Linked DNA regions of Homo sapiens. The main gene of each other region encodes a partner of the protein of the gene in region 2 in a complex. Each region holds a gene or a part of one and is shown on either strand. Other genes may lie near its edges.

The links.
Region 1: NUP214 (region 2) and NUP188 share a complex: the UniProt entries of both Homo sapiens proteins name them as parts of the nuclear pore complex.
Region 3: NUP214 (region 2) and NUP93 share a complex: the UniProt entries of both Homo sapiens proteins name them as parts of the nuclear pore complex.
Region 4: NUP214 (region 2) and NUP85 share a complex: the UniProt entries of both Homo sapiens proteins name them as parts of the nuclear pore complex.

The regions. Positions count from the first base shown.
Region 1 is NC_000009.12:128,950,659-128,957,698, reverse strand, and holds part of NUP188 (nucleoporin NUP188), read right to left. Parts: intron 4,927-7,040; coding exon 4,853-4,926; intron 1,350-4,852; coding exon 1,265-1,349; intron 748-1,264; coding exon 667-747; intron 1-666. UniProt on the Homo sapiens protein: Component of the nuclear pore complex (NPC), a complex required for the trafficking across the nuclear envelope. Required for proper protein transport into the nucleus.
Region 2 is NC_000009.12:131,142,559-131,149,598, forward strand, and holds part of NUP214 (nuclear pore complex protein Nup214), read left to right. Parts: intron 1-1,721; coding exon 1,722-2,196; intron 2,197-3,570; coding exon 3,571-3,746; intron 3,747-4,928; coding exon of another isoform or gene 4,929-4,931; coding exon 4,932-5,026; intron 5,027-7,040. UniProt on the Homo sapiens protein: Part of the nuclear pore complex. Has a critical role in nucleocytoplasmic transport.
Region 3 is NC_000016.10:56,845,129-56,850,786, reverse strand, and holds the end of NUP93 (nuclear pore complex protein Nup93), read right to left. Parts: 3' UTR 501-5,658; downstream 1-500. UniProt on the Homo sapiens protein: Plays a role in the nuclear pore complex (NPC) assembly and/or maintenance. May anchor nucleoporins, but not NUP153 and TPR, to the NPC. During renal development, regulates podocyte migration and proliferation through SMAD4 signaling.
Region 4 is NC_000017.11:75,229,642-75,236,261, reverse strand, and holds the end of NUP85 (nuclear pore complex protein Nup85), read right to left. Parts: intron 4,923-6,620; coding exon 4,839-4,922; intron 4,690-4,838; coding exon 4,624-4,689; intron 4,435-4,623; coding exon 4,283-4,434; intron 3,412-4,282; coding exon 3,294-3,411; intron 3,205-3,293; coding exon 3,104-3,204; intron 1,626-3,103; coding exon 1,474-1,625; intron 1,163-1,473; coding exon 1,061-1,162; exon of another isoform or gene 1,060-1,060; intron 685-1,059; coding exon 583-684; 3' UTR 504-582; downstream 1-503. UniProt on the Homo sapiens protein: Essential component of the nuclear pore complex (NPC) that seems to be required for NPC assembly and maintenance. As part of the NPC Nup107-160 subcomplex plays a role in RNA export and in tethering NUP96/Nup98 and NUP153 to the nucleus.

The DNA.
Region 1 (7,040 bases), 2.2 Mb from region 2:
AGGTCAGGAGATTGAGACCATCCTGGCTAACACGGTGAAATCCTGTCTCTACTAAAAACACAAAAAATTAGCCGGGCGTGGTGGCAGGCGCCTATAGTCCCAGCTACTTGGGAGGCTGAGGCAGGAGAATGGCGTGAACCCGGGAGACAGAGCTTCCAGTGAGCCAAGATCACGCCATTGCACTCCAGCCTGGGAGACAGAGCGAAACTCCATCTCAAAAAAAAAAGAAACTCTACCAAATCCTTATCACCTCTAATAGCCCAAGATTCTATGATTAACATGTCAGTCTTTGACCTCTCCACTCCTCCAAGTATGAAGACAGATCTCAGCTTATATGCATATATATTCTTTACTTTTTAAAGAGATAGGGTCTCACTCTTTTGCCTAGGCTGGAGTGCAGTAGTGCGATCACAGTTCACTGCAGCCTCAAACTCCTGGACTCAAGTGATCCTCCTGCCTCAGCCTCCCAAGAAGCTGGGAGTACAGGCACAAGCCATTGCACCCAGGTCATGTTTTTTTTAAAGCCTTTAGTAGGTCTTCCCTGAAGATGACGGTACCTGATCACCTACCACCGATAAAAGAATTGGTGCCAAAATCCTACATTATCTAAAACCAACAGGGAAAAAGGATAAAGGCAGAAGAAAGGAGCTGACATAAACCACAAACCTTTACTGAGTCCCGAGTACCCCTGTAGTCCTCTTGCAGGTAACACTGGAGTAACTGCACACTCTGTTCTTCATCAAGACCCTGAAACACAGAGATTTTAAGTAAGGAACAGCTCAGAAATCGCACACAGGATGCAGAGAATTTAAAGATTTGTCTTCTACAATGAACACAGGACTTGAATAAACAAAAATGCTTCTCAAAGATTCATAAAACATAACAATTCTGACTCTAATAGAAGACAAGAGCCAGTCACTGACATACAATTTTTATTACAATTAAATGTACATGCCAGAAACAACGATGCTTATTCACTAAGCACATTAATACAGCAGTAGGCATGATGTGAGCTTCCAAAATGACAAACTTAGTCACCTTAAAGACCACCACATGTCTGGTGAAGAAAACCCTATGATATGCAGTGAATGGATCAGGCAACTTTGACTTGTAACTTTTAGGGAGAAGAGTTGCAACCTGGGTATTTATAAAACAATTTAATCCCCAAAACAAAAAGAAACTGAATTTTCACTATCACTAGCAATATAACCACGCACATCCACACTGCAAGTAATAAATTGAGCGAGTGCTAATTTTTACTCACCAAAAACTTGCTGATTCTTAAACCCAGTTCCTTCAATGGTGAAGCTACATCTTTATTAGCTTTCACTTTTTCAGCTGAACTTGGACTACAAAAAGAACAGTGAATCATTTCTTCATTCTCAATAGCCCACTGAGTTTAAAATAAAAATATTTTAAAATATTTTTCCTACAGACTATTTTCTGCCCTTCAGATGCCTATAAACACACACACAAACACACACACGCACACACACACACACACACACACACACACCCATTCACCTCTACAAACTTCATAACGCAGAACTGGTTATGCCTAACAAAACAAAACAAAAAAAAAGTGGTTAAATTACAGTTATAACAATGTTATTTGTAAACACATTAAGTTACATTATTTTTGATCCTTACTACTGCCCTAAAAGGCAAATATTACTATTCTCCTTTTACAAATGGAATTGCCAGCACTTAGGGTAAATAACTTACCAAAAATCCCACAGCTCATAAACAGTTGCTAAAATTTAAAACCAGGTCTGTGGCATACATACATATATTAATATATTATCTGTAATAGCTCTGTCCACCGAGAAGGCCTAGAATTTATAATACTCCAACAGCAGGAGGTACATGCAGCACCCAGATCCTGCTTTATAATACCATTCTCTAATAACAGGATTCCTTGGAGAATTGGTTGATTCTAGAGTCAGGGCAAGGAAAATACAAGAAAATCTTGAAGCATCTTATAGTGAAAAGAAGTACAAAAGGGCTTAAGAAACCAAAGTCCTTTCGGTAGGAGATGACATAATAGAAAAAAAAGAAAAGAAAAAAAGAAAAAAGGAAGGACACGCCCAAAGGACAGAGGCCAACCTAAAAGAATGCCCAATAGCCAAAGCTGAAACAAGGTATAAACAAAGTATAAGATAAATAAAATAAATATATTTGAGTCTATACTGATATAAACTAATGAATAAATAAATAGGATAGGGAGGGGCCAGAACAATGGCTCATGCCTGTAATCCCAGCACTTTGGGAGGCCAAGGCAGGAGTGTAGCTTGAGGCCAGGAGTTTGAGACCAGCCTAGACAACAAAGTGAGACCCTCATCTCCACCAAAAGTGAAAAAAATTAGCTGGACATGGCTATATTTAGTACTCACTTCCAAAAAATAAAATAGGAAAAGAGAAAAAAGTAACTTTACAGAGGAGAAACTTGGCAAATGCCTCCTTAACTGAGTGACCAAGATTAACATTACCAGTGATTTCATGTGGACAGCATGTACTCTCTGCTATGATGTGGTAAGAAGGGTAGCTTGGCCAGGCGTGGTGGCTCACGCCTGTAATCCCAGCACTTTGGGAGGCTGAGGCGGGCGGATCACCTGAGGTCAGGAGTTCAAGACCAGCCTGACCAATATGGTGAAACCCTGTCTCTACTAAAAATACAAAAATTAGCCAGGCATGGTGGCATGCACCTGTAGTCCCAGCTACTCGGGAGGCTGAGACAGAATTGCTTGAACCCAGGAGGCAAAGGTTGCAGTGAGCTGAAATCGCACCATTGCACGCGAGCATGGGCAACAAGAGCGAAACTCCATCTCAAAAAAAAAAAAAAGAAGAGCACCTCACCTCTGTGTATTTTTCCCAAAAACTCACAACCCCAGTCTAATAATAAGGAAAACATCAGACAAACCCAAATTGGGGGCATACTACAAAATAACTGACCAGTCCTCAAACTTGTTCAAGGTCATGAAAATCAAGGTAAGACTAAGACATTGTCGACATTGTCACCGGCCGCGGTGGCTCACGCCTGTAATCCCAGCACTTTGGGAGGCCGAGGCGGGCGGATCATGAGGTCAGGAGATTGAGACCATCCTGGCGAACACAGTGAAACCCTGTCTCTACTAAAAATACAAAAAATTAGCCAGGCGTGGTGGCGGGCGCCTGTAGTCCCTGCTACTCGGGAGGCTGAGGCAGGAGAATGGCGTGAACCCGGGAGGCAGAGCTTGCAGTGAGCCGAGATCGTGCCACTGCACTCCAGCCTGGGCCACAGAGCGAGACTCCATCTCAAAAAAAAAAAAAAAAAAAGACTAAGACATTGTCACAGCGGGCGCCTGTAGTCCCAGCTACTCGGGAGGCTGAGGCAGGAGAATGGCGTGAACCCGGGAGGCAGAGCTTGCAGTGAGCCGAGATCGTGCCACTGCACTCCAGCCTGGGCCACAAAGCGAGACTCCATCTCAAAAAAAAAAGACTAAGACATTGTCACAGCTAAGAGGAGACTACAGGCACTTGACAACTAGGTTGGATCCTGGAACAGAAAAAAGATAGTAAAGAAAACAATAGGCTGGGTATGACGGCTCACGCCTGTAATCTCAGCACTTTGGGAGGCCGAGGTGAGCAGATCACTTGAGATCAGGAGTTCAAGGCCAGCCTGGCCAACATGGTGAAACCCCATCTCTACTAAAAATACAAAAATTAGCTGGGCGTGGTGGCGGGCACCTGTAATCCCAGCCACTCGGGAGGCCAAGGCAAGCGAATCACTTGAACCCGGGAGGTGGAGGTTGCAGTAAGCTGAGATGTGACACTGCACTCCAGTCTGGGCGACAGAGCAAAACCCCATCTCAAAAAAAAAAAAAGAACAGACACTGGAATGAGACCACCAGGGTCAAATCCTGGTTCTATCACTTAGTAGCTGTGTGACCATGACAAGTTGCTTAACCTCTTTGTGCCTCAGTTTCCCCACTGGTAAAATGGAAACAATGATAAGGGTACCTAAATGTGATAATATAGAGATTATCTTTTTAAAAAGTCCATGTATTTTAGATACATAGTCAAGTATTTGCAGATAAAATAACAAGGTATCTGGGATTTACTTTAAGGTAATTACAGGGGAAGAATTAACAGACAGATGAATAACAAGGAAAAGTTCATCGTTAACCTAAGAGAATGAAAATGGAAGGTAAAGATGTAATACATTCAAAAGCAGTACAAAAGTAGAAGGGAAATGAGGGTGACTTAGACTATAACGCATAATAGAATGAGATCTGGACTAGGAATCAAGATCAAATAAGCCCAGCCCTACAAGCTGCATTCTCTTTATTTGCAACTACTTTATATTTTATTACTATGTTTTCCACTACCCAATAAAAAGATCTATATATTCACCCAAAGAATAAAAGTAGTAACTATCTCAAAGGGGTGTTGTGGGGATTAAATAACTTTTGATAAGTCAGGTGCTTAGAGTATTAATTGTTACATAGTTAACACTACACAAGTGTCAGTTGTTAGCATCATCCTTCACTGCTATCTCCCACCAATTAGTACTCACACAGACACTGTGGACTCTGAATAAATATTAGAAAATTCGTTGAATGTTTAATAAATTCTCATCCCCACACATAGGTCATAATTATATTCTACAATACTGTATTTCTAGAAGGAATTTCCTTTTCTTTCGGTCAACAAAAAAACAAATGTACCCTACTGTTTTCCACTGGTAAACTAAATTGTATTATCTCTGGTATACATAACCCTACAATATCATCAAAGCACATAGAAGGATGGTTTTATCCATGTCAGCTTCCTTAGGACAATTACTTTAACCAGACACCCGGAACTGCCATACCTGGGAGGTTTGTAGTAAGAAAGCCCCTCTAACAATCGCCGCCAATGTTTATTCAGTTCTGCCTCAATCTGACTCTGGAAAAGAACAAGGTAATTATACAAATGCAGTATTTTTTTTTTTTTTTGAGACAGAGTCTCACTCTATCACCCAGGCTGGAGTGCAGTGGCACCAACTTGGCTGACTGCAACCTCCGCCTCCCAGGTTCAAGTGATTCTCGAGCCTCAGCCTCCCGAGTAGCTGGAATTACAGGTGCCAGCCACCACACCCAGCTAATTATTGTATTTTTAGTAGAGATGGAGTTTCACCATGTTGGCTAGGCTGATCTCGAACTCCCCACCTCAAGTGATCTGCCTGCCTTGGCCTCCCAAAGTGCTGGGATTACAGGCGTGAGCCAAGGCACCCGACCGCAAATGCAGTTTTTTGTGCTTTCTTTTTTTTTTTTTTTTTTGAGACGGAGTCTCACTCTGTTACCCAGGATGGAGTGCAGTGGCGCAATCTTGGCTCACTGCAACCTCCGCCTCCTGGGTTCAAGCAATTCTCCTACCTCAGCCTCCTGAGCAGATGGGACTACAGGCGCACGCCACCATGCCAGTCAGTTTTTTTTGTATTTTTAGTAGAGATGGGGTTTCACCATATTGTCCAAGCTGGTCTTGAACTCCTGAACTCGTGATCTGCCCATGTCAGCAAAGTGCAGGGATTACAGGTGTGAGCCACTGCGCCCGGCCCAAATGCAGTTTTATTAATAATCAGACTCGGCCAGGCATGGTGGCTCAGGCCTGTAATCCTAGCACTTTGGGAGGCCGAAGCGGGCGGATCCCCTAGGGTTGGGAGTTGGAGACCAGCCTGACCAACATGGAGAAACCCTGTCTCTACTAAAAAATACAAAATTAGCTGGGCGTGGTGGTGTATGCCTGTAATCCCAGCTACTCGGGAGGCTGAGGCAGGAGAATCACTTGAACCTGGGAGGCAGAGGTTGTGGTGAGCCGAGATTGCACCAATGCACTCTAGCCAGGACAACAAGCACGAAACTCCGTCTCAAAAAAAAAAAAAAAAAATCAGATTCCAGAATCACACTAAGTATTACACATTCCTTTGAGTGTTTTTAATATGCATTTTTCCCCAGAGTTGAAATCATTTTGAATACAGAATTCTGTAACCTTCTTTTCTTTGCTTAACATTATAACATAATGACTTAACCTTATTATGAAAGTCTTGATAAACATACTTTCAAGTTGCTGCATAATACTTGTATCAAGTTGGTAGATCATAATTCATTTACCATTCCTCTAATGTTTGATATACTTAAGCTGACTGTAATTATTTAATAATATAAATGATGTTGTGGTGAAGTTTTCTTTGTTGTTTTTTGAGACAGGGTCCTGTTCTGTCACCCAGGCTGGAGTGCAGTGATGCAATCATGGCTCACTGCAGGCTTGATATCCTGAGCTTAAGCGATCTTTCCACCACAGCCTCCTGAGTAGCTGGAACTACTAATACAAGCATATGCCACCAAGCCTGACTTTTTTTTTTTTTTTTTTTTGAGATGGAGTCTCGCTTTGTCACCCAGGCTGGAGTACAGTTGCGCGATCTCGACTCACTGCAACCTCCACTTCCGGGTTCAAGCGAATCTCCTGCCTCAGCCTCCCGAGTAGCTGGGATTACAGGCATGCACCACCACACCGGGCTAATTTTGTATTTTTAGTAGAGACGGGGTTTCTCCATGTTGAGGCTGGTCACGAACTCCTGACCTCAGGTGATCCGCCCGCCTCGGCCTCCCAAAGTGCTGGGATTACAGGCGTGAGCCACCATGCCTGGCCAAGAATCTTTCTTAGGTTGAGGTAGAAGAATGGTATTTGCACCCCTACTCTCAGCAGCCAAGCAATGAACACAGGTATCTTTTCATAAAAGGAATCAATGAAATACAAAGGTAGATTTAAAAGACTTCAGCAGCTAGGCTAGGTAGTCTCATTTCAGCAAAGAAGTAGGGAATGCGTAATGTTTATAAAGCTTTTTGCTTTTTTGAGCTGGGGTCTCGATGTGTCTCCCAGGCTAGAGTTCACTGCAGCCTCAACCTCCCAGGATCAAGCAATCCTCCCACCTTGGACTCCTAAGTAGCTGGGACTACAGACATGCACCACCATGCCTGGCTAATTTTTTAAAAAATTTTTTGTAGAGACGGGGTCTTGCT
Region 2 (7,040 bases):
TCAGTTCTGTTTTCAGTGGAAAAAATGCTTTTGATTTATTTAGGGTCTGGTATATATTTTTCATGTCAGTTTACCTAATATGCATGAAAGTGTTTTAACATCTATGTATGTCTTTACAGAAGTTAGTTGTAGCTGGTTCCATATCTATTGTATAAAGAAGTATTAACAGAATAGGTTTGCTTGCATTATTATACTTTCATCAATGTGACAGTTTACTTGGATTTTTGTTTTCAGAAAGTGGTATTTTCATACTTGTATCTAAGTATTACGTTGCATTAGACAAAGTGTCTTCCATGAAGATAAACTGCCATCTTAGCTAATTTGGAACAACCAAGTCCTATTAATATAAATAGAAAATATTGACACAAAGAATTCTTTTCTTATTTAGTTGGTTATTTAATTTAAAGATTAATATTTTTACCTTATGGAAAGTTTGGAAAATAGAAAAAAAAATTATTCATTTTTGAGACAGGGGTCTCACTCTGTTGTGCAGGCTGGAGTGTAGTGGCAGGATCTTGGCTCACTGCAGCCTCTGTCTCCCAAGTCCAAGCGATCCTCCCACCTCAGCCTCCCAAGTAGCTGGGACTACAGGCACAAGCCATCACACCTGGCTGATTTTTGTATTTTTTTTGTAGCAACAGGGTCTCACTTTGTTCCCCAGGCTGGTCTCAAACTCCTGGACTCAAAGGGTCCTCCTGCTTTGCCCTCCCAAAGCTCTGGGATTACAGGCATGAGCCACTGCGCCCAGCCTTCCATTGACTTTTTTTTTTCTTTTTAACCATTTGGATTGCATTAAATATCTTTTTCATTTTTTGCATTATGTTTGTAAGCTTTATTCTTAGAAGAGAAATTACTGGGTCTGTTTTTTACAGTTTTTTATACAATGCCAAAATGTTTTCTTAAAAAAAATACTAGTTACCTACCAGTGATAAAAAGTTTCAGGTTTGTTTTACCCATCCAAACATAAGGGGTTAGACATATTTAAATTCTTATAATTTAGAGGACAAATTAAAAATGTACCTTGTTTATATTTCTTTGATTAGAGAGATTGAATGTGTTTTCTTTATGTGAGTTAGTTTCCCTGTTTATTAGTCCTGAAATTTTAAAATCTCAATTTGTATGAGCTTTTTAAAAAATAGAAAACATCTTATTTGTCATTTGCTATGGATCTTTTTTTTTAGTTCATTACCATTTAGTTATTGTACCTGAGTAGCTATTTTTTACACAAATCTTAACCTTCTCCCTTTGCGATTGTTTTTTTTTTGGTCACTTCTAAATTTATCAAGGTGTTAGATTCTGAGACCTAACATATCTATCAATTTGCCTCCTTTGTTTTGAGATACCTGTATTTATGTGACTTTCTATGTGTATTTATCTGGAATTACTTTTAGTGAAATAAGGTGGAGGTCTGAATTAAAACTTTTTCCTGGTTGTTAATGAAATGTTGCAGTGACTGAACTGTTTTGTGTGCCATAGTAGCACTGAGAAGTCCATGAAGTCCAATTATTCTAATGTCTTTCCTTAGTTTTCCTTCAGTTTCATTTATCTCATGAGACCTGAAAACTCCAACATGAACTGTGTACCCATGTGTTCTTTTTGCTTCTTAAACTAGTAACATTTCTGGCTTTATTCTACCACAAATTCTTTTTCACTTGCTTTCTATTATGTGAACCTCCACTGTTACAGTGTTAACATTTTCCTTCCTTTTTTTGTCACTGCAGGAAGTACTCCCACTACCCCAACCTCCTCTCAAGCCCCACAGAAACTGGATGCTTCTGCAGCTGCAGCCCCTGCCTCTCTGCCACCTTCATCACCTGCTGCTCCCATTGCCACTTTTTCTTTGCTTCCTGCTGGTGGAGCCCCCACTGTGTTCTCCTTTGGTTCTTCATCTTTGAAGTCATCTGCTACGGTCACTGGGGAGCCCCCTTCATATTCCAGTGGCTCCGACAGCTCCAAAGCAGCCCCAGGCCCTGGCCCATCAACCTTCTCTTTTGTTCCCCCTTCTAAAGCCTCCCTAGCCCCCACCCCTGCAGCGTCTCCTGTGGCTCCATCAGCTGCTTCATTCTCCTTTGGATCATCTGGTTTTAAGCCTACCCTGGAAAGCACACCAGTGCCAAGTGTGTCTGCTCCAAATATAGCAATGAAGCCCTCCTTCCCACCCTCAACCTCTGCTGTCAAAGTCAACCTTAGTGAAAAGTAAGTCACTTCTAAAGTTTGATTCTTCTGTGAGTTGGGTAGAAATATTGGATGTTATTTACTAAAAGTAGAGTCACTCTGAGAGGAGTTAACTGAGTAGAATTTTTTTACCCAGAGTGATACTTGCAAATGGCAAAAATTCAACCAACATAAAATACTGGCATTTCATCAGTGAATAGAGTCCAGAAGGGTCTCTTAGCTAGCATTTTATTTTTTTGACTATGGGATTTATATTCAGGTATTTGTTTTGCTTTTTTACGTTACAAATGTAGGAAATATTCCTTATTTTAAAAAAAGAAGCAATCCAGAGTATGCATCCTGGAAGGGAAATGAATCCCTTGTAGTCTTTTTTCCTCCCTGTGTCTACCCTTAACTCTCTCTGAACTGCTGTCTACACAGCCACAAAGTCATCTTGTGACACTGTAAATTGTTAGGTGATTCTTCTGCTTGACAGTCCCTATGAAGCCCCGTGGCTGCTCACTGCTAATTCTTAGGTTGGTATCCAGTTTCCTCCAGATCTGGGTCGGGCAGCTCACTCATTTCTTATTTATTTACTTCTTTATCTTGTTCTTTTCTTCCCACTAGAATGTAAGCTTTTGGAGGGAAGCAATCCCTTATATCTTGTAACCCCTCCCAAGATAACCATGAGTTCCCAAGATAACCATCGAGTATAAGTACTACCAGCTTTTTCCCTACTTGCCTGTACTATCTGTTGTTGCTATGGTGGTGCTGCTGCCACCACAGTTACTGTTAATACTGAATTGGCACACATCCACTTCATGCTAAGGGTTGCATAGTGTTCCATTTTGTTGACTGCACCACAGTTTATCTGACCAGTCATCTAATGCTGGAGTTTAGATTGTCTACAGACTTTTGCTCTTTAGGTGGAACCGACTTTACATTTCCTTTAGGCCATAAGTATCCCAAAGACAGTTCCCTGCATTCCTCTTCCTTTTTCACTCCCCAGAGAAGGTGCTCACTCTCAAAACGAGTTCTCAGTAATTTCCTTGGTAAGAGAAAGTACTAACTCTCCTAAGCATAATTGTGTCCCACCTCCTGTTTAAAACTCAGCTGGAAACAATAGTATTTCATATCATGATAAACTTGGTATTTCATATTGTGATAAACTTAGTTTTGATATTTCCCCTGAATAATTAATTCCTAAATAAGCAGACGAAAAGATAAATGTTTCCTTGCAGCTTTCACCTTTTATAAGAAATAGCTAAACATTTTTGTTTCCTGAAGGCAAAAAGTATGTTATCTTTGTAAGTTAACATAAAAGATAATAAGTTATCTTTTGATGACATTGCTCATGCTAGTGTAAAAGAATCTTCTAGCAGGCTCTTCTGAGGCCTTCAGGCTGCCATTTTTCAGGTTTACTGCTGCAGCTACCTCTACTCCTGTTAGTAGCTCCCAGAGCGCACCCCCGATGTCGCCATTCTCTTCTGCCTCCAAGCCAGCTGCTTCTGGACCACTCAGCCACCCCACACCTCTCTCAGCACCACCTAGTTCCGTGCCATTGAAGTCCTCAGTCTTGCCCTCACCATCAGGTATGATTTTAAGCAGACAACTTTAGACCTCAGCCCTGCCTTCTCAGATTAACGGTTTTAAGTGTTAAGAGTCGTAGCTAACATAGTTGGACAAGGTTATTTTTTCTTGCTTCCTGTATCATACATTAATGATTAATGTGCTGTGATTTTCATACTCTGAATTGGGAGATTTGCTCTTGCTTAAATGCTGCCACTCTTCTCTCTGACACTTCTTATGGAGCTAAGTGTATTTAATGAGTCAAAAATGCCTTGCTCTTGGGCATTTATTTTCATATGGAGCCTGCCCTCCATGAAGAGCAGTTACATAACAGTTCTTTAAGAAGCACAGGCACAAGAGTTGTTTGGCGGGGTGCGGTGGCTCACGCCTATAAACCCAGCACTTTGGGAGGCCAAGGCAGGTGGATCACCGGAGGTTAGGAGTTCGAGACCAGCCTGGCCAACATGGCAAAACCCCATCTCTACTAAAAATACAAAAATTAGCCAGGTGTGGTGGTGGGTGCCTGTAATCCCAGCTACTCAGGAGGCTGAGGCGGGAGAATCACTTGAACCTAGGAGGCAGAGATTGCAGGGAGTCGAGATCACGCCACTGCTCTCCAGCCTGGCGACAGAGCGAGACTCTGTCTCAAAAAAAAAAAAAAGTACAGAGGAGAGAGTACCTGCAGTGATTATATTCATATTTTCACAGTCAGTCATACTGTAAACAGGAAGTTTTGTTTTGTTTTTTGAGACCCTCTCACTCTCTCACCCAAGCACATCACTGCAGCCTCTACCTCCTGGGCTCAAGCGATCTTCCCACCTTAGCCTCCTGAGTAGCTGGGACTACAGGCATGTACCACCACCGTCGGCTAATTTTTAAATTTTTTTGTAGAGACAAAGTCTTGCCATGTTGCTCAGGCTGGTCTCAAACTCCTGGGCTCAAGCAATCCTCCTGCCTCAGCCTCCCAAAAGGCTAGGATTACAGGTTTGAGCCACCATACCTGGCTCCTAAAATTTTAATATATTTTTTTCATTATCTTAGAACAGAGGCTAGCACAACTGGTGGTCATCACTCTTTAAAATAAATCATGAAAGTGGGCCAGGGGCAATGTGTAACTTAATTTCTTAGATTTGGAGAAAGGACATTTGTGATAGGAGAAATAAAGGTAATAAATGCCATCTATTTTAACTGACTTCTTTTTCAAGCAGGACGATCTGCTCAGGGCAGTTCAAGCCCAGTGCCCTCAATGGTACAGAAATCACCCAGGATAACCCCTCCAGCGGCAAAGCCAGGCTCTCCCCAGGTATGTTTAAATTCAGCTTGCAATGTTTGTGTTTATTAATTTACTGCCCCAAGCATACCTATGAATAAAATGAGTTTTCATGTTTTATAATTCAGACCTTGGACATAGTAATTGGGACTATGTGATAGTAAATACCAAAGTGCGAGGTTTGAATACTTGTATACTCGTAAAAGCCATTTAGCTATTTTAATTTTTTATTCATGTATAATACAAATAGAAAAAAGTACACATGATACATGTACAGCTCAGTGAATTGTCAACAACTGAACATACCTTGGTAACTAGCATCCAGATCAAGAAACAGAATTTTACGAGAACCTGGCTGGGCACAGTGGGTCATGCCTGTAATCCCAGCACTTTGGGAGGCCAAGGCGGGCGGATCACCTGAGGCCAGTAGTTCGAGACTAGCCTGGTCGACATGGTGAAACCCCGTCTCTACTAAAAACGCAAAAATTAGCCGGGCGTGGTGGCACGTACTTGTAGTCCCAGCTCCTGAGGAGGCTGAGGCATGAGAATCACTTGAACCCGGGAGGCGGAGGCCAGAACCCCAGAGTTCTTTTTCACCTGTCCCCTTCTAGTCACTACTCTTGCCAAAGAGTAGCTGATTTGATTTCCAACAGCATAGATGAGGTTAGCCTGCCTGTACCTCCTATCAAGTGGATTTGTACAGTATGTATTCTTGTATCTGGCTGCTTTGTTCAACATTATGTTTGTGAGATTTATCCATGTCGTTGTATGGAATTTATTGTGTGATTATATTACAACTATTTGTTCCACTCTGATGGGCGCTTGAGTAGTTTCCAGGTTTAAGCCATTGTATGTAGCACTGCTATGACCGTTCCAGTTGACATCTTCAATGAACACATATGCAAGTTTCTCTTGGGTGTATCCCTATGAGTGAGATTGCTGGGTCATAGAATCTGCATGTATTCCTCATTAGTAGATTCCCACCAAGAGTGTATGAGACTTCTGGCTGCTCCACATACTTGCCACTCTTGGTATTTTTCATCTTTTGTTGTATGGTTTTGTGGTTTTAATTTGTATTTCTCTAATGATTAGCAAAATTAAGCTTTTTAAAAGATGATTATTGGCCATTTGAATATTTTCTTTTATGTTGTGTCTGTTCATGTCTTTATTCTGTTTTTCTGTTGGATTGTCTGGCTTTTTCCTTCTGATTTTTAAGAGTGAGTTCCTTGAATACACACACACACGCACACACATACAGTGCAAATATGTTCTCACTGTGAATTGTCTATTCATTGTCTTTTTTGTTTCTTTGATGAATACACATTCTTCATTTTAATATAATTAAGTATATCAGTTTTTTCTTTTATGATTAATGCTTTTCATGTTTTAGAAATAATTTTCTATTTCAAGGTCAAAAAGATGTTTTTCTAAAAGCTTTATTATTTTATCTTTCATATTTAGATTTGTAGTCCATCATCTCAGTTTATTTTTATGGTATAATGTAAAGAGAATTGTATGTCAGTTTCCCACGTGATTACTTGAGTGCCCTGAGAATAAGCGTTATGTCTTTTCCTTTCTGTGTCCCTCTAACCAACCCTTGTACCCTAACACACACCTGTACTAGGTACATAGTAAGTGCCCAGGTCACAGTTCACGGTGTGGCATGATGCATGACATACAGTGTTTGTCAAATAAATGTTTGCTGTTAATGAATGCTGATGCAGTCTAAGACCTCTCTAGTGTTAATCGTTGTAAGTATCAAATAGTCTAAAGGGCATTTCAAATTATAGTATCTTTAAAGCAGAACTCTTGATTTCTGTCTCCCCTAGAGGCTAGTCCTTTTCCAATGGGTAAGTAGCACTAACAAACCAGATGTTTGCACAAGCCCCAAGCCCCGAAGCATCCTAGATCCCTCTCTTTAACAGTACCTGTCCCCAGTCCAGGCTGGCGGGAGGTCTTGTCAGCTCCACCCTCTGCTGTGTCACATGTCATAAGCCCACAGCTCTGTCCCCCTGCTAGCATCCTGTGTCAAGCTGTTGCACCTCTC
Region 3 (5,658 bases), on a different chromosome or scaffold from region 2:
CCAAATTCCGGCTCCCCTTCCCCAAGGCCAATACGTGGCTCTCAACCCCCATTTAAAATGCTTTCCACTGAAGGTCTAAAATAAAGGGTTACAGATCTTAGCTGTTCCTAGCCCCCAGAATGCATGCCACATGCTGGGTTTATCACCAGAATGCTTCTGACTTACTGTCCCACCACAGTCAGAATCTGACCTTTCCGGCCAAGAATTCTGAAGTTCAGGGGGAGAAAGCACAAATTCAGAGCTGGGATGGGAGTCCTGTACTTACAGAGACCTCTGGGGACTTCGCAGACCCAGGGACTGGATAGGCCTTAGGAGCCTTCTTTGCAGGGAGTGGAGAAGGGGCCTGGCTCATTAAGCCCCGAGGCCAGGTAGAGGCACTTCTGTCACCTTCTGAGGAGCCCCCAGGCTGTGCCTCAGCTAAAGATATTCCCAGGAAAGGCCTGAGAGAGGCTTCTGCTCCACTGAAGGACTGAACAAAGGGGGCACATGGCACTCTGGGAGAATATTCCAGAAATTTACTGGCTACAGACAGGGATAGTGGTGAAGGAACCATCCTAAACAGAGTAAATGCAGAAGTTACTGTACAGAAAGGAACATGCAGAACACATCCACCAACGCTCTCCCACCCTCTCCCTTCTCCCACAAGCACCACACAGAGTGACTCGAGAAAAGCAAAAAAGAAAAAAAGGAAAATAATCAGTCAACTGAAAAACGCAAAGAATTCTCCCCCACTGAGTTTCTAACACAAGTTACTGATCAAGTGAGAAAAGGCTGTACTTTGGCTCTTTCCTTTCTTTCTAAAATACACAGTATTTGAAATTCCTGGTTGAAAAACACAGTAGATGACAGCCACTGAGGTCAACTGGGGCCCACATTATCCCGCTCAGCTGCCTGCCTAGCTCTTCAAAACTGCGTATCTCAGTCATTTCCGATGCCCACAAAAGCACAAACAATGCACAAAATCAGGGTAATCCAATTCCACTAGAGAGCTCCCGGCAGCCCGTGGCAGGCCTGAAGGTCTCTGGGCAGCTAGTACCAGCAGAGGCAAGCCCAGGTAGGGCAGCCACATAGAACTGGGACATACTTACACTAGGAACTTCTTCACTGTTTATCCAAAATGCAAACTTAATTGAGTGTCCTATATTTTTATTTGCTAAGTCTGACCCGGATGAAGGGGCCTTACCTGCAGGCCATAAAGCCCCTGGGTGCCACCTGAAAGCCTGCCTAGGCCAGGTCTGCTGAGGCCACCAAAGCATATGTCCTGATGCTGAAGTCCCCTCTGGGATCACTGACTCCCCACTTCCTGTTCAAACAGAAGCCAGTGTCTGGGGCAAACTTTTTTGCCCTCCCCATCCCCAAGAAATAGAAGCTCAAGGGCAAAGGCAGCCAGGTGTACAGATTGTGCTAGCGCAGAGCTGGGTTTCTGCCAGCACCCCGTCCCTTTTTCTTTTTAAAGATCCGGCCTTCATTATTCACAGTACATCAAATTTCCACCCCCTTCTCAATGTTTCCCTGCTGCTGTGCAGCTCTGCAAGTTTCTGTCTTTGAAGGAACAGCCCTGAGTCTCATTTGATCCTGGGAGACATTATTCTCCTCCACCTTCTTTCAGACTGAATGCCTATTAAGGGCCCCCACGGTGAATCACGGAGTCTGAATCTAGGCACGTGGAGCTGATCCAGAGGATGTGGGGAGGAGCCTGGCACAGGAGGACAAAGCAAAGCATCTGCTCATTCAAATATCTGCTGAGCAATCTACTGTGGGCCAGATACCCCAGAGAGGGCACACAGGAGAAGCATATTTCAAAAACCAAGGTTAGGACAGGAAAATATCCTCTTTCCCTGGGTTAGCAACTTAGAACCACGAGTACTTCACTTAGGTGATCCTGGACAAAAAAACGAAAAAAACGAGCCTACTTTTAAAGAATTATGCACAACTCTGGGAACAAATCAGTGCTTAATTTACCTCAGATATTCCAGCTACCTAGCACGGCCCAGCACACAAAGAGGTTTTGAAATCATCTGCTGCAATGGAATCTTGGCTGATAAATACACGTGGCCTATCTAGCCAGTCACAAGTTATGTGCGTAACAAGGCAAAAAAGCAGCACAGACCACTTGAAATCTCTTTTCAGAACACTTTAGTAATTTTTAACTTTTTTCCTTTTCGGTTGGAAACAAGTGGCAGAAAGATTTATTTCCTTCCTGTCCCTGCCCTGTGAGGGATACCAATATATTATGGAACTGTCAGAAGATGGTGGAAGATGGGAAGACTTGTGGATTCAGCGTAGGATAAAGAATGGGGGATATTTTCTTCCACAGTTTAGACAACTCCTGTTTAATGAGATGCTGACTTCTTCCTGGTATTTCTGAGATGCAGGAACAAAAGCTCAATTCTGATATAAAACACACATTTCCATCAAGAATTTTATATGTAACACTTTCTCCCAATTTGCTGACACAGGGCTCAATTCCTTTCCCAGCTGACTGAGGCTAAGGGAGAGTTCGCAGTCAGTGTGGGGACTGCCAAGACTTTGTCAGGCCTGGGTCAACCCGCCAGCCCAGGGGTTCATTTTCTGACTCAGCATTCAGCATGCTCAAGTCACTTCCTGAGTGGCATGCTGGAAATTTGGCAAGTGATGTGAACCACCTAATGAACTAGACAAAGGTTCTGGTGCCTAGTAGAGAAAAAGGATAGTAGAGATCCAGTCTAAAGCAGGAAGGCGTTGGCAGAGCTGCATATAACTGCAAATTTAGTATTAAGGGTTCTGGCTAGGTGCAGGCAAGGGTAAAAATTCAAAGAGAGAAAAATCACCCTCAGGTTTTTTTTGGTCAGCAAATGCTGGACACTGCGGAAAAGTCTGTAGTTCTTTGCTTTAAAGCTGCCTGTTCTAGGATTTAAATGATGCATCAAGAGTTAACAGTGGCTGCCAAATTGTCCTTAAGAGGCTCTAATTAGACTGTAAGTTCGCGGAGGACAGGAGCTGGGTCTGCATCCTGGCCCCAGTGTAAAATGGGCACTTCCTGCTCTTTGATGAGCCCGCCCAGCTCGTGAGTGAAAAAGGAAGGCATCTGCCGTGGCAGAGCTCACCAGTTTCGCTTCAGTTTTCCCTCTGAAGTTGGGGAGTCAAAGAGTTTTTTGTTGCTGTTGTTGTTGAGCCAAAAGAAGAGAATCTGTGAAATTAAATCTCCAGGCCTCTGAAAAGGATCCAGATCAAGTCAGTACTTTCCTTTGAGTGTTTCAGTGAGTTTATTATGAGCCATTCTGAGACAGGAACAAACCCTGACAGTCTCAAAGTGCCCCCAATTTCATTAGAAAGATCGAAATCTCACATCTGGAAGACAAGACGCCTAGTGCCACTTTCTCTTAGTTTCTCTGGGTAAATAGTGAAATCCTGGCCCAACATCTAAGGAAAGAGTTAGTTCTCTGAAAAAGTGGGCTGAAGATGAGTTTTTAAGATAATAACCTGTCACAGGGTCAGGACTTCTGGGCATAAGCTGTAATGATGGGTACATGACAACCTGATGTTGTGGCCTTGCAAATTCAGCCTGTTTCTCATCTCTGCACAATTCCAGAGGCCTGTGCTCAATCGCACAATCAGCTTGTAGGACAAGAACTGGGATTTGCTCCATCCGAGTCCTGGCCCTTCTGGTATGAACCTACTTATCTTCTTTCTCCTACAAATGTCTCTCTCAGCAAGTCCTTAACTGCCAACCAGTGACCACTTTTCTCCCAACTCACAGCTCCCCTAGCAGAGCAGCTCAAGGTCTGGCTGCTTCTCTCCCTTCTCATTTTAGGACCCATCTACAGGTCAAAGAACCTCATCCCCTGGATGCAGGGCTGGTGTGCAGTTCTCTCTGAGACAAGTAGAACTGCAGGATGCAAGGAAAGGCAAATCCACGATTCTCATGGGATAGTGAAGAAGAGGTAAGCCAGGAGCAAACATGTATTTAAACAACTTGAGCCTTCTCATTTGTGGCATTGTTATATTTCTATCTGCAAGTAAAATCTAGTATTAGAAAAACAAAGCACTAAGTTGCACTTTATGAAAAGTCCACAGAGTACTCTTATTTTTATTTTTGAATCAGAGCCTCACTCCATCGCCTAGGCTGGAGTGCAGTGGCATAAGCTCGGCTCACTGCAACCTCCGCCTCTTGGGTTCAAGTGATTCTCCTGCCTCAGCCTCCCGAGTAGCTGGGATTACAGGCGCCTGCCACCATGCCCAGCTGATTTTTGTATTTTTAGTAGAAACGGGGTTTCCCCATGTTGGCCAGACTGGTCTCAAACCCCTTACCTCAAGCGAACTGCCTGCCTTGGCCTCCCAAAGTGCTGGGGTTACAGGCGTGAGCCACTGCACTCGGCCAGAGTACTCTTTATTTTTTTGAGACGGAGTATCGCTCTTTCACCCAGGCTGGAGTGCAGTGGCATGATCTCAGATCACTGCAACCTTCGCCTCCCGGGTTCAAGCAATTCTGTCTCAGCTTCCTGTGTAGCTGGGATTACAGGTGCCTGCCACCATGCCCGGCTAATTTTTGTATTTTTAGTATAGACGGGGTGTCACAATGTTGGCCAGGCTGGTCTTGAACTCCTGATCTCAGGTGATCACCTGCCTTGGCCTCCCAAAGTGCTAGGATTACAGGTGTGAGCCACCCCACCCGGCCAGGAGTACTCTTTTTTAAAAAGCACTATTAAATCATTTGATTAGCTTAAATCAGCACATATAAGCAGGGCACAACTTGCTAAATCAAGGCCTCTGCAGGGCTCATGTTTCAAGACTTTCTAGTAAAGCTCAATTGAAGACAGTCCTCCAGGGTGACAAGATGGGACTAGAGGAGGAAGGCAGAACACAGCTCCACTGACCCTCAGGCCGCATCCTTCCTGGAACATGGAATCCTACCGATAAGCAGCAGTTGGTTCCATTATCTACAGATTATTTCTTCCCAAAAGAAAAGGTAACAATTATTTTAACAACTGGGAGACAGTGGGGATGACCACACCCTGTGACAAGACAGAAACTTCTCCCTACAAGCAAAGGCACCTTTGGGGACCCTTTGGGGATCTTAACATTCTGCTGGGAAAGAGTCTACCTCAGGGAGCCGTCCATCAAACCAGCAGAGCAGACCACTGCCCACTGTCTCAAGGCTCCAGTTGGCCCATTCAGGAACAAACACGACCTAATTTGCTCTCTGGTTTAGTCTAGGGCTTTGGGACTGATGGTGGGGGAAACAGAGCAAATGATGGGTGACAACTACTGCTCAGGGAGCAAACACCCATGGTGCTGATGCCATGTGGTGGTCTGGATTCTGTACATTGCAGACTCAGCACGTGACCCATGAGCCTGCCTGGCCAATTACCTTAATGAGTGGGGAAGGGGGTCGTCTGAGCAGAGGAACTGACCACCAGAGAAGGGAAATAGGGGCTTAAACGTCTTTCTAGGAGGGGTGTGTACAAGGCCGAGCAGTCAACTCACAGTGGAGCAGCTACAGAGGAGTGCAGTGGCAAGGTTTACCCCTTCCTCAAGTGCAAGCTGGGGGCACTTGCAACCTTCCTTCTTAAGGCTTTTTCTAGGTCTATGCTTTTATCTCCACTGGGATTGCAACAGAACGGCAAACTGATGAATCCTGCAATCAGAGCTGATGATTTGGGGGATGGTCTTGGACCA
Region 4 (6,620 bases), on a different chromosome or scaffold from region 2:
TCCTGGGGTTGAGGGATCCTCCCAAAGTGCTGGGATTACAGGACGTGAGCCACTGCACCCGACCTGGGGGGTGATTTCTTATCTAAGGAGGCACAGGAAGACAGTTGCGTATCAGAACATAAAACAAGGCCGGGTGTGGTGGTTCACGCCTGTAATCCCAGCACTGTGAGAGGCCAAGGCGGGCAGATCACAAGGTCAGGAGTTTGAGATCAGTCTGGCCAACACAGTGAAACCCCATCTCTACTAAAAATACAAAAAAATTAGCTGGGTATGGTGTGCACTTATAATCCCAGCTACTTGGGAGGCTGAGGCAGGAGAATCACGTGAACCCTGGAGGCGGAGGTTGCAGTGAGCTGAGATCGTGCCATTGCACTCCAGGCCAGGCAACAGTGCAAGACTCCGTCTCAAAAAAAAAAGAACATAAAACAAGCATTTTTTAATCTCTTACCACCTCAGGTTCAGACTAGACAGATAAAAAATTCCCTGGGTGGACTCTAAGAACCTACATTTGCAAAACAACATTTATTCTTTTAAAAAAATCTATATACATTGCCATACAAAGATACCACATTGAAGCAGTTCTCAGGAACCTTCCAGTGAGCCTTCTCTTATAATTGCCCGAGCAAGATTTCGTGCCAGAGAAAGTCTCAGCATTTCCACCTTGGTGGTCTCTATGTCATCATCCTGCAAAGCAGAGAGCGCCAGCATGAGCTAAGAGCAGGAAGGAGCCCTTTCACACTCCCGAAGGGTCTAGCTAATCCAAAGGTAGAGGGCACTTAACATTCATAGTAGCTTCCAGCAAATTATCGATGTAAAAGAAAGCAATACCAAAGGGCCATACTGGAAATGATGAACAGCAAAGAACAAAATGTAGAGATGAGAACACTAGAATCCCTGATTTTCTCCTAAAAGAAGGTGGTGTGTGAATTACACAGGTTAAGGGGAACAGAGGCACATGTGTCCATAGGAGCCAGTGTTTCTGGAGGGAAGGGGAAGCCTGAGATAGAGGGAGCCTTTTCCCACCTCCATGTGGAACCATCAACCCAAAAGTGAAAATGACCTGGAGCTGCTCGGTATCAGATTCTCCATGCACAGGTCTTCTTGACGTCAAGTCCTCCAGACACCGCATCAACTCATAAGTCTGTTCTGCTGAGAAAATCACCTAGGGAAGAGAGCCTGCCTTGCTTGGCTGCCCCCAGCCCTGGCCTGCATTGGTTGGGGCAGGGGCCCATGTTCGGACGTTCTTCCTTTCATACCCTTCGCAATAGTGTGCTTTGTATACGAATACCTCATTTCAAATCAAGCAGTGTTTGTTTCCTGTGTGAGTCTGGAATCCCAGAGAGGGCGCTAAGGGGAATACACGCGCACAGGCAGAACGACAAAGGAGGAAACACGCACATCGGCAACAGCTATACAACTAAGCTCTAGCAGGGACTGACAAGCAAAGAAAACCACTGCTGCTGCAACCTTCACCTGTTTCTGTTCCAAAAGGGGCAAGGCGTCTGTCAGCAGAGTCATCCAGAAAGACCGAGGGGCAATCCGAGACGTCATCAAGGACAGAAGGAGAGAAGCTGCGTCGGCAAAACGCTTCTCCCCGTACATACGGTGGAACTCGCGATACTTTCCTATGGCGAAACAAGAGCACTGAGTAACCTGCATATTCCCCCAAATTGCCCAAGTGACACCTACAAAAGTCACCCTGGCCCTAAACAGGAGAAGAAAAACCTCAGACCAGCCACTCCACAAAGCAGGAGATTTTTTTCTGTCTCCAAACTCATAGGTCCCAATGAGATGCAGACCAAGAGCATTCAAAACAGACTTGGAAGAACTCCGAAGAGCCAAATCTGGGGAAACATCAGAGTCAAAATACATAACAAGAGTCATGGATTAAAAGAGATTGACTAGGCCAGGCGTGGTGGCTCATGCCTATGCCTGTAACCCCAGCACTTTGGGAGGCCGAGTCAGGTGGATCACCTGAGGTCAGGAGTTTGAGACCAACCTGGCCAACATGGTGAAACCCCATTTCTACTAAAAATACAAAAATTAGCCGGGTATGGTGGCATGCACCTGTAGTCCCAGCTACTCAGGAGGCTGAGGAGGAAGAATGGCTTGAACCCGGGAGGTGGAGGTTGCAGTGAGCCAAGATTGTACCACTGCACTCCAGCGTGGGCGACAGAGTGAGACTCCGTCTCAAAAAAAAAAAAAAAAAGAAGAAACATGGAGGCACTGGCCAGGCACAGTAGCTCACACCTGTAATCCCAGCACTTTGGGAGGCCGAGGCGGGCGGATCACTTGAGGTCAGGAGTTCCAGACCAGCCTGACCAACATGGTGAAACCCCATCTCTACTAAAAATACAAAAATTAGGCGGGGCGCAGTGGCTCACGCCTGTAATCCCAGCACTTTGGGAGGCCGAGGCAGGCGGATCACAAGGTCAGGAGATCAAGACCATCCTGGCTAACACGGTGAAACCCCATCTCTACTAAAAATACAAAAAATTAGCTGGGTGTGGTGGCGTGCGCCTGTAGTCCCAGCTACTTGGGAGGCTGAGGCAGGAGAATTGCTTGGACCCGGGAGGCGGGGGTTGCAGTGAGCCGAGATCACGCCACTGCACTCCAGCCCGGGTGACAGAGTGAGACTCTGTCCCCAAAAAATAAATAAATAAAATACAAAAATTAGCCAGGTGTGGTTCCGCGTGCCTGTAATCCCAGCTACTTGGGAGGCTGAGGCACGAGAATTGCTTGAAGTCAGGAGGTGGAGGTTGCAGTGAGCCTGGCAGCCTGGGCCACAGAGCGAGTAAGATTCTGTCTCAAAAAAAAAAAAAAAGAAAAAATAAAAGAAAAGAAGAAAGAAAGAAAGAGAAAGAGAAAGAGAAAGAAAGAGAGAAAGAAAGAAAAACAAACAAACAAACAAACAAACATGGAGGCACTAAGGAGATGTGACAGCCAAACTCATGATCCTGGACATGACGGAGGATGTTTCTGGGACCACTGATGCAATGGGAATACATGAAGGAAGCGCTGGGAGAAGTCTGACGTGATCCCTCCAACCTCCCCAACTACCCACTTGTGCCCAAAGCACAGGGCACAAAACCCAGAGACTCACCCAGGAATGTCAGTCGGTCACTGAGCATCATGGCTGGCCCCAGGTTGTCAATGAGATCCAAATCAGAAAAGCAGCCTCGCTCACAGTAATCCCTGAGGAACCTGCAGGGCCCGGCCCAGAGATCAGAGCAGCAGTCTCAGGCCCACCTCAACCACCCAGTCCCTGGGAAGCCAACACTAGCGGCACCCACCTGTCTGACACGAGCGTGGCAAAGGCGGCATCCTTAGCACGGATGCTCCAAGAGAGGGCAGAACCCAGGCGATTGTTGCGGACGGCTTTCATGGCTAAGATCTTACAAATGCTGCGAACTTTGCAGGGGAAAAGAAAAGGTAAACGGCTTTCACTCCACAAATCACTCCATTCCTGAGCCCTGTGGGGACCGGAGTGGCCTCACAGCCTCACTCCACCGCAGAGCCACTCTTTGGGCTCTAAATGCAGCTGGATCGGCAGAGCTGGAAACTCGGCTGATTAACAGTGTCTGGGATCTGCTAAGAGTGTAAGTGCCCATCACGGCAAGACTGGCTCTATGAGTGTGTGTGGCTTCAAGGGGAGCAAAACGTTGCTCCCTACATGTCAGCTCTTCTATTTTTTTTCTCCCTACGTGTTTCTCCCTACGTGTCAGCTCTTCTATTACCTCTCCAGATGCCTCAAATCACATCTTCCTGTGGATCGTGAATACCATATGCTTTCAGAAATGGTCGTGAACATGCAACTGCCTCTCTGCAGGGTAATAACTCATGTTTACATTACTCAACAGTGAGGGGAGAAATGAAGGGGCAGACTTGGTCATCCTCATTCCACTCTCTCTGCTTTTCTGGAGCCACCTCCAGCACTGCTTCCCCATTGAGCCAGGCTGAGCTAGCAATAGCAACCCACCTGGACAGGGAAACAGCGCCAACCCCAGCCCTGACCTCGTGGAATCAAGTGTGTGAGAAAAGGGGCGGCTCAGGCCTTTCCAGATGGCGTGTAGATTTTGTCTGGGTTCCAGTGGATCCCTAGCTTTCCTGTCCCTCCCAAGTAATTATCCCATCTCTTAGTTTACCTCTTGGCGTCCACAGCCCCACGTCTCCAGTGTGGCTCGTGAGGAGGAGGATGGCTGGGGTAGGCATAAAGTGTGACCTCAGGATCCCCTGACTCCTGCGTCCCACAGACAGTAGGCTGGGAGCAGGGCCAGCTCACCTTGTTCAGTCATCTGCCGCTGCTCACAGATCCGCAGCACCTTCAGGGCTTTCTGCTCGGTGTTCAGAGGTATCCGCTCAATGTGCAGCTCCAGGGAGACTCGGCCCAGCTCGGGGCAGTAATCAAAGTAATCGACCCCCAGCTGCCACAGGCTGCAAAGGTTCGAGGAGGACAGACATGAGGTGCTGCCTCATGGCTCCGAGGACTGGCACCTACAGCTCCCTTTCACTGACCCTTCCGAAGCCTTCAAGGAGCCAACTGGGAGAGAACAGTCCAAGCTCCAATGGCACCCGCATGCTGAAGAGCACCCGCATAGCCCACACCCATGGGGTCCTTCCTACCTGGGATGAGCAAACAGTCCCGAGGCGTACTCCAGCAGGAGGAACTCTCTCATGTTGGAACCGAAACTGGAATAAAACATAACAAAAGACCAAGACTCCTGGCCTGCCCTGTTCAGGGCCCCCTTAGCCCAACCTCCCTTTCAGGCATTCAGTTCACACCACCCTCGGGGGCCTGGTGGTAAGAAGAGGAGGATCGGTGCCTCCCGGCCACTTACTAGAGGTTGTGTGACTGGAGGAGCTTGCAGTGGTCCAGCAGGTCTGTCAGGTGGGCCACAAACCACCAGTTGCTCAGGGCGATGCTGCAGATTCAGACACCAAGGCAAGAAGGAAAATCAGGGCACAGGCCGCGTCCCACAAGAGTGGGGGTGAGCAAGAAACCCCACATGTCCTGTCCCTCAAAGAGATGGGGCCGGGCGTGATGATAGCTCATGCCCGTGATCCCAGTACTTTGGGAGGCCAAGGCAGGCAGATCACCTGAGTCCAGGAATTTAAGACCAGCCTGGGCAACATGGCAAAACCCCATCTCTACAAATACAAAAATTAGCCAGGCATGGTGGCACACACCTGTAATCCCAGCTACTCGAGAAGCTGGGGTGGGAGTATTGCTTGAGCCTGGGAAGCAGAGGCTGCAATCGGCCGAGATCACGCCACCGCACTCCAACTTGGGTGAGAGAGCACAACCATATCTCAAAAAAAAAAAAATCGCTCAGAAAGTAGTTGAGGTGGAGTCTTGCTCTGTCACCCAGACGGGAGTGCACTGGTGAGATCTCGACTCACTGCAACCTCTGCCTCCCAGGTTCAAGCAATTCTCATGCCTCAGCCTCTTCAGTAGCTGAGATTACAGGCATGCGCTACCACACCCAGCTAGAAAGTAGCTTTTGAATGTTCTCACCACACGCACACCAAAAGGGTCACTATGTGAGGTGACAGATGTCACTAGCTTAATTTCACAATGTATACATCTATCAAAACATGTTGTTGGCCGGGCGCGGTAGCTCACACCTGTAATCCCAGCACTTTGGGAGGCCGAGGTGGGAGGATCATGAGGTCAGGAAATCAAGACCATCTTCGCTAACACGGTGAAACCCCATCTCTACAAAAAGTACAAAAAATTAGCCGGATGTTGTGGCGGACACCTGTAGTCCCAGCTACTCTGGAGGCTGAGGCAGGAGAATGGCGTGAACCTAGGAGGCGGGGCTTGCAGTGAGACGAGATCGCGCCATTGTACTCCGGCCTGGGCGACAAAGTGAGACTCCATCTCAAAAAAAAAAAAAAACAAAAAACATGTTGTACACCTTGGCCGGGTGCAGTGGCTCATTCCTGTAATCCCAACACTGAAAGGCCGAGGCGGGTGGATCACTTGAGCTCAGGAGTTCAAGACCAGCCTGGCCAAAATGGCAAAACCCCATCTCCACCAAAAATACAAAAGTTAGCTGGGCGTGGTGGCGTGTGCCTGTGGTCCCAGCTACTCGGAAGGCTGAGGCAGAAGATCGCTTGAGCCCAGGAGGCAGAGGCTGCAGTGAGCTGAGATCGTGCCACTGCACTCCAGCCTGAGTGACAGGGCAAGACTCTGTCTCCAAAAAAAAAAAAAAAATTTTGTACACCTTAAATACATACTACTTTGTTAATCACACCTCAATAAAGCTGGGGAAAAAAATGGGAGGGAGTGGGCTGGGCCAGGGGAAAGGACACCTCAGCTTCCCAAAACAGCTGTTGCTACCCAGATTTCTAGCTGATGGTTATGTCGAAACCATTGGAGAAGCCAGTGAAAAGGCTATAGGGGACCCAGGCTAAGGGAGCCAAAGCCTTAGCCTGCACGAAAGCCACCAACAACTGGAAGGAAGGGCTGAGACAGTGCCCGGTGTCTTCCCAAAGGATCCAGCAGCCTCCAAGGCTGGAAGGCAGCAAGCACTGAGAGCAGAGAACTAACAACACAACTCAAGTGACGGAGACCAGACATAGTGCTGCACAAAGCCACCACGGTCTCTCTACAGGGC